2 linked regions of the Homo sapiens genome follow. The protein of the gene in region 1 purifies or fractionates together with the protein of each later gene. This does not show direct contact. Each region holds a gene or a part of one and is shown in the gene's direction. Other genes may lie near its edges. The genes, in order: UPK3A and UPK1B.

The links.
Region 2: the proteins of UPK3A (region 1) and UPK1B purify together in Homo sapiens (affinity purification with western blotting, with the first as the bait; one study listed by BioGRID). This does not show direct contact.

The regions. Positions count from the first base shown.
Region 1 is NC_000022.11:45,287,739-45,291,555, forward strand, and holds part of UPK3A (uroplakin-3a isoform 1 precursor), read left to right. Parts: intron 1-1,322; coding exon 1,323-1,405; intron 1,406-3,817. UniProt on the Homo sapiens protein: Component of the asymmetric unit membrane (AUM); a highly specialized biomembrane elaborated by terminally differentiated urothelial cells. May play an important role in AUM-cytoskeleton interaction in terminally differentiated urothelial cells.
Region 2 is NC_000003.12:119,194,077-119,197,893, forward strand, and holds part of UPK1B (uroplakin-1b), read left to right. Parts: intron 1-142; coding exon 143-322; intron 323-3,817. UniProt on the Homo sapiens protein: Component of the asymmetric unit membrane (AUM); a highly specialized biomembrane elaborated by terminally differentiated urothelial cells.

The DNA.
Region 1 (3,817 bases):
TGCAACCTCCGCCTCCCAGGTTCAAGCGATTCTCTTGCCTCAGCCTCCCGAGTAGCTGAGATTACAGGTGCACACCACCATGCCCGGCTAATTTTTTGTGTTTTTAGTACAGATGGGGTTTCATCATGTTGGTCAAGCTGGTCTCGAACTCCTGACCTCCAGTGATCAGCCTGCTTTGGCCTCCTCCATAGTATTGGGTTACGGGCGTGAGCTGCCATGCCTGGCCCATCTTGAAATTCTTAATTGTTGAACAAGGGCCCACATTTTCATTTTGCTCTGGGGCCCACAGATTATGCAGCTGGTCCTGGCCCATCTACGTGTGTGGAAGTCACCCACCCAAACCCCTTCGTCTTACAGGAAAGGAAACTGTGCCAGAGAGGGAAGGTCACCCAGTGGAAAGCTGGGGCCCAGCATGAACAGAAACCCTACCAAAGCCTTGCCATCTGCAGCCTCAACTTCTGCTTTTTTTTTTTTGAGATGGAGTTTCGCTCTTGTTGCCCAAGGTGGAGTGCAGTGGTGCAATCTCGGCTCACCACAACCTCTGCCTCCCGGGTTCAAGCGATTCTCCTGCCTCAGCCTCCTGAGTAGCTGGGACTACAGGCGCCCCCACCACGCCTGGCTACTTTTGTTTTTGTATTTTTAGTAGAGACGGGGTTTCACTGTGTCAGCCAGAATGGTCTCGATCTCCTGACCTCATGATCCGCCCGCCTCAGCCTCCCAAAGTGCTGGGATTACAGGCGTCAGGCACTGCGCCCGGCCCATTTTTGTATTTTTAGTAGAGACAGGGTTTTGCCATGTTGGCCAGGCTGGTCTCGAGCCCCTGACCTCAGGTGATCTGCCCGCCTCAGCCTCCCAAACTGTTGGGATTACAGGCGTGAGCCACCATGCCCAGCTTCAGCCTTTTTCTTTTTCAGTTTTCTTTGTGATGCCAAGGAGCAGGCTTGGAGTCACGGAAGGCAGAAATGCAAGGAAGACAGATGCATTAGTGCTCAGCAACTATGCCACGTGTGTTACATGGAGGAAAGAAATGGAGGGGAGCTCTAAGAGGGAGCGCCTAGAAGGGCAGCTTCTGATTCTGAAGGCTTCATGGATGCAGGAGGTGGCAGCTGATCCAGGGAGGGGTCCTGGGGGGGGTCCTATTGGCCAAGCTCAGCACTGTCCTGTTGCCCAGAGCCCGCTCAGTAGCCGTCTACATTTCCGTCTCCTGGAAGGGCCCCCGCTGCCGTCTCCCACCCCTAGGCCATCCTACATCCCCCCACCGCCTCCCTGTGGGTGGGGCTCACAGGAAGCATAAAAGTCACCCTGGCTCCGTCTCCTTCCAGGTTCAAGTATGTCCTGGTCAATATGTCCACGGGCTTGGTAGAGGACCAGACCCTGTGGTCAGACCCCATCCGCACCAACCAGCGTAAGTGGTGGGCAGTGGTGGTGGTGATGCTCAAGGGGACCCGAGAAGGCGGGGCCAGCCACGGCGGTGAGAACCAAGGCTCCTCTGTCCCTGTGAAAGCCTCCCAGGCCAGGCAGTGATGAGTAAAATGCTCCTTAAAGCTGTTGAGCCAGGCCAGGTGTGGTGGCTCACATCTGTAATCCCAGCCTTTGGGAGGCTGAGGCAGGTGGATCACGAGGTCAGGAGATCGAGACCATCCTGGCTCACACGGTGAAACCCCGTCTCTCCTAAAAATACAAAAACAAAAGTAGCCAGGCGTGGTGGGGGTGCCTTTAGTCCCAGCTACTCGGGAGGCTAAGGCGGGAGAATAGCGTGAACCCGGGAGGTGGAGCTTGCAGTGAGCCAAGATGACACCACTGCATTCCAGCCTGGGCGACAGAGTGAGACTCCGTCTCAAAAAAAAAAAAAAAAGAAAAAAAAAATTAGCTGGGCGTGGTGGCACGTGCCTGTAATCCCAGCTACTTGGGAGGCTGAGGGAGGAGAATCGCTTGAACTGGGGAGTCAGAGGTTGCAGTGAGCCGAGATCACGCCACAGCACTCCAGCCTGGTGACAGAGTGAGACTCTGTCTCAAAAAAAAAAAAAAAGTCGTTGAACCTGGAACTTCCTCCTTCCTCCTTTCCATCCTTGAGGGCCAGGTGTGGGAACAGATCAAGGTGCAGGCCTTGGTGGCATTTGGGCTGGGGATGGGTGTAAGCGGATCAAAGCCGGCCCATTCCTCCGTCTCTCCAGCCCTTACAGTGGGTTGGCCTCAAAGGCACGCGGAGCTGACCCGGCATTTACGTCCTAACCAGCCCCTTTGCTAAATCCTCATAGCAGCAAGCACCCTATGGCCAGGTAAGATGTTTCCAAGGCCTAAAACCAAGATGGCAAAGGCAGCAAGGAACCGCTCTCCTTCCCTGCACACCTACTCCTTAGCACCTGGGCGGCTTTCCTGAGGTGGAACGCCAGGGTGCTGCGCTGTTCCTTGCTCAGCAGAGACCCAAAGTTCATATACAGAGTCGAGTCTGCTGAATGACAGGGGCCACGCCAGGGTCTTTGATGGTAATTTTGGGCAAATGATATCCTAACTTAAGACCTCCTCCCGCCACACCTTGGCCCCCAAGACGAGGCTGTCTGGCAGGATGAGTGTCAGGGTCCTGTGCATTTCACCTGCAGAGCCTCCTGTTGAGCCCATGTGCACCCCCAGGGGCGTGGGGGGCTCTGAAAGGTTGCCTGAAGTCACACGCGAGTGGGTGGTAGAAAGCCTTGTGTGTGAGTATGTGAGTGCCCGTGCCTGTTGTGGTATGTCTATGTGTGTGTGTTTGTGTTGCGTGTGGCGTGTGGTAACTGTATAATGTAGTTTACGGTGTTGCGTATGTGTGTGAGTGGTGTGTGAGTGTGAGAATGTGTGTGGTATGTGGTGTGTGGAGAGTATGTGAGGAGTGTGGTGTGGATGAGTGTGACAGTGTGTGGTGTATATCAGGGGTCCCCAACCCCTGGGCCATGGACCAGTACCAGTCCATGGCCTGTTAGGAACGGGACCGCGCAGCAGGAGGTGAGCAGTGGGCGAGTGAAACTTCATCTGCATTTGCAGCCGCTCCCTGTAGCTCGCATTACTGCCTGAGCTCCGCCTCCTGTCAGATCAGCAGTGGCATTAGAGTGTCACGGGAGCGCGAACCCTGTTGTGAACTGCGCATGCCAGGGATTAGGTTGCATGCTCCTCACGAGAATCTCATGCCCGATGATGTGTCACTGTCTCCCATCACCCCAGATGGGACCGTCTACTTGCAGGAAAACAAGCTCAGGGCTCCCACTGATTCTACATGATGATGAGTTGTACAATCATTTTATTATATATGGCAAAGTAATAATATAGAAATAAGGTGCACAATAACTGCATATAAGGTGCTTGAATCATCCCGAAACCACCCCCAGCCCACTCCCGTCTGCAGAAAACCTGTCTTCCACAAAACCGATCCCTGGTGCCAAAAAGGCTGGGGACTGCTGGTATATGTGGTGTGTGGTGGGGTTGTGTGTGTGAATATGAGGGTGTGTGTGGTTAGTGTGAGAGTATGTGTGGTGTGTGAGTGTGAGAGTGTGTGTGGTGTGGGTGGTGTATGTGGTGTGTGGTGGGGGTGTGTGTGAATGAGGGTGTGTGTGGTGTGTGTGGTTAGCGTGAGAGTATGTCTGGTGTGTGTGAGAGTGGTGTGGGTGGTGTATGTGTGTGTGGTGTGTGGGTGGTGTGAGAGTGTGTATTGTATGTGTGTGGTGTGTGTGGTGTGAGAGTGTGGCAGGTGTGTGTGTGAGTTTGAGTTGTGTGATGTGTGTGGTGTGTGAGTGTGAGAGTGTGTGTGTGAGTTGGAATGTGTGTTGTGTGGTGTGTTAGAGTGTGG
Region 2 (3,817 bases), on another chromosome or scaffold:
AGCTGTCATTTGGGGATTTCTTAGTAAATGTAAGATATGGTACACTTTCCGTATCTTCTTTCTCTATAAAATTTCAGTTGCTACATTGATGGCTCTAGTAGGGACCACGAAAGAGAATTTTGTATCTCTCATCTGCTGACAGGACAATTGCTGTGGCGTAAATGGTCCATCAGACTGGCAAAAATACACATCTGCCTTCCGGACTGAGAATAATGATGCTGACTATCCCTGGCCTCGTCAATGCTGTGTTATGAACAATCTTAAAGAACCTCTCAACCTGGAGGCTTGTAAACTAGGCGTGCCTGGTTTTTATCACAATCAGGTGAGTCCTCTCTCCTCCCAAGACTTCCCAGGAGGTTCTGCTGCTCTTTATGAGAAAAATATTGGTCAACTGTAGGAAATAGTCTTTCAGTAAGGAATTCTACATTCTTTTCCCTAAACCTCATGTTAACTATTTCCTTCTCTGTTAATAAACTGCAAATGCTAAACCAGGACTGATAGGGGCAAATTTACATTTTAATAAAATTAACAAAACATGAGAATTGCAATAGCAGAACCCAACTTTGTTTAAATGAAGACAATTTGCACAATGTATGGAATTGGTATGTCAAGAAATATTTACATTAAACAAAGTTTTGCTCTAGTTTTGCAAAATGTAAATTGGAAGGGATGATGTGCAAAAAGAATGTTTTGCCAATTCCAAAGCAATGACTATTGCTGAGGATAAATGTAGTAATTACACATCCACATTCCTTATTCAATGGTAAAGTAGGACAGTCTTAATAAACATTAGGTTGGTGATTTGGATGGAAGGTAGTTTACATACAGATAGTTTTTGAAAAAGTTTCCAGGCTGATGAGGATAATGTGATTACGATCATGAAAACTAACATTTATTGTGTACTTACTAAATGCCAAACACTGTTTCCAGTGCCACACATACACTATCTCCTTTAATGCTCAGTAGTAGGTGCCAGTAGGATCCCTGTTTTACAAACGAAGAACTTAGACGTAGAGATACTAATAAATACCTTGCTGAGGTCACACAACTAGTAAATGTCCGTCTTTTCAAAAAACTCTCTGGCTTTTGAAACATGAGTTTTCTGCCTTCAAGCACAGACTCTAAGCCAGTGAAGACTTGTTAATATTCCCCAAAAGCCCTGATGAGAACCTCCAGGTACTTGTAGTCAGCATCTGCTGACCCTGTACACTGAAACGCTGTGCTCTGCTCAGGGAGTTACCTCTTTAAGGAAAGCTAGTTGTGTACCAGCTCATTAAATAATTGAGAAATGTCAGGCTGTTTTGTTTGGGAGCAGTACAAACTGCATGTTCAGATTGAGGGACATGGCACTGTTGCTGACAGGGTGCCTGGACTAGAACTGGATGCATTATTCCAGAAAAGGGCATGGGAGTGTTCTAGATTATTTTGCAGCAGTGTCCAGAGCAACCCTCATTGAGCTTTACTGCAACATTGTCTGGCATTGTTTTAATCAATTATATTCAGACTGTTATTAAAAATTAAATTTGCTGCTTATAATCAAGGTGTACAATATAATTATTCTCAGGACTATAAAAGGCTTTTGATATTTCAACACTGGAACTGCTCATGCAAACAAATCTTGATTGGATTGTAATTGTGTACAAACTGTATTACCTCTTTGAAAGGGATAAAAATAGGACATTTGTCTTCAGATAACCAGTTTATTTCATAGTTATACCTTTTTTCCTAGCACATATAATATTTTAGTTATGAGGACAAACCTGAAGCTTTTCTCAAGTTTAGATAGATGAGAAATTGAGGAAAAGATACAAATGAACTATTTTCCTCTACCTTGGGACCTCCACACCCATTTTGACAATGCTTCTAACACGTTCCCTTACAGTTCCCTGGCCTCATCTGTTCTAACAATTCCACCTCCACTACCCTACAGTTCCCTGGCTTTATCTGTTCTAACAACTCCACCTCCACTACCTACCAACTACAAATTCATCATCACTCAGCCCTACTCCTCCACCAAATTCCTGAATTCTGAAATTCCTCTCTCTGTTCCTGACTTCCTGTGCTCCTTGTTTCTCAACCTCACTCATTCTGCTCCTTTGACATAATCTCTTATCTATTAGTCCTTTCTGATTCTCCCTAGCCCAGCCTCCCAGATTCCCACACACCACCATTCTCCCTGACTCATAGGTCTTGCTAAGTCCCCTCTTGCCATCCTTTTCCACCAAGAAAAAGGTGCTACCCCAAGACCTGGTATACTTTATTTCTATTATTGCATTCACTACCTGGAACTATATTTGTTCCCAAGTCTATTTTTTCTGAGTCTCCTTGAGGACTATGTATTATTTGATTCTACAGATTTGATATTTTTAGTACTTAGCATAATGCCTGGCACAAAGCAAGCACCGACGTTTGATAGATGGGTGAATAAAGAAGTGAATAGTGAATGGTTTTTCTTTTTCTTTTTTTTTTTTTTTTTTTGAGATGGAGCCTGTCTCACTCTGTCGCCAGGCTGGAGTGCAGTGGCGCTATCTCGGCTCACTGCAACCTCCACCTCCCAGGTTCAAGTGATTCTCCTGCCTCAGCCTCCCAAGTAGCTGGGACTACAGGTGCACGCAACCACACCCAGCTAATTTTTGTATTTTTAGTAGAGATGGGGTTTCACCATGTTGGCCAGGATGGTCTCGATCTCTTGACCTTGTGATCCACCCACCTCAGCCTCCCAAAGTGCTGGGATTAAAGGAGTGAGCCACCGTGCCCAGCCTGGTTTTTGTTTTGTTTTGTTTGAGAGACAGGGTCTCACTCTGTCACCCAAGCTGGAGTGCCATGCTGCAATCACAGCTTATTGCAGCCTCAAGCTCCTGGGCTCGAGTGATCCTCCTTTCCACCTCAGCCTCCCAACTAACTACAGGCATGTACCACCAGGCCTGGCTAATTTTATTTTTTGTAGAGATGAGGTCTCACTGTGTTGCCCAGGCTTCACTTTTTGACAACCATATTGTAGGTTTTCAGGATCTACAATGCACAAATGTGCTGCTATAGCTGTGAAGACTAACAAAATTAGGGAAGTCACTATAAGCTTGTTAATAGTAGAAATTAACTAGAATTTCACACAGCATGTCAGATGCAAATATATATATATTCTATGTTATGGTTTATGTGACTCAGAAATGCTATGTGCAAATTGTGATCACTATACCTCAAAAATGTTATAATAAAATGAAGGAAGATCAAGTAAAGTACCACTAAATTGACTAGCATCACGAAAAGGCACTAAATGATGGTGAAAAAAATGGGGCTTCTGTCTGTGAGCTTCATGAAGGCAAGGCCCATTTCTGTTTGCCACAGCTAAATGCCCAGCCAGTACTTGGCACCTGGCATAAGTGGGCCCTTATATATATATTATTAGATGAACGACCACCTCCCAGGATTGTTGGGAGGACCAAGGAGTAGCAGATATGGGAGTGTTTTGTGAACCATCAAGTGTGTTGCAAATTATACTATTGTAAACATTAATGTTCCATTCATTCTGTAAATGTTTATTACGTGTCTACTATGTGCCAAGCACTTGTTCTAGGTTCTAGAAATTCAACAGTGAACAACATAAAATCCCTGCCCTCATGGAGCTTGCATTCTAGCATGGGAGACAGAAAATAAACATGTTACCAAACAAATACATGATAAAATTCCAGGCCCAAATAGGCCATGAGCAGAAATAAGGCAGGGTGAGTATATAGAGTAGGATGGAGAAAGGGTCTTTTTCTCTGTCACTGTCAGGAAAGGCTTTGTTGAGATGATATTTGCAGAGGTTTGAATTAAG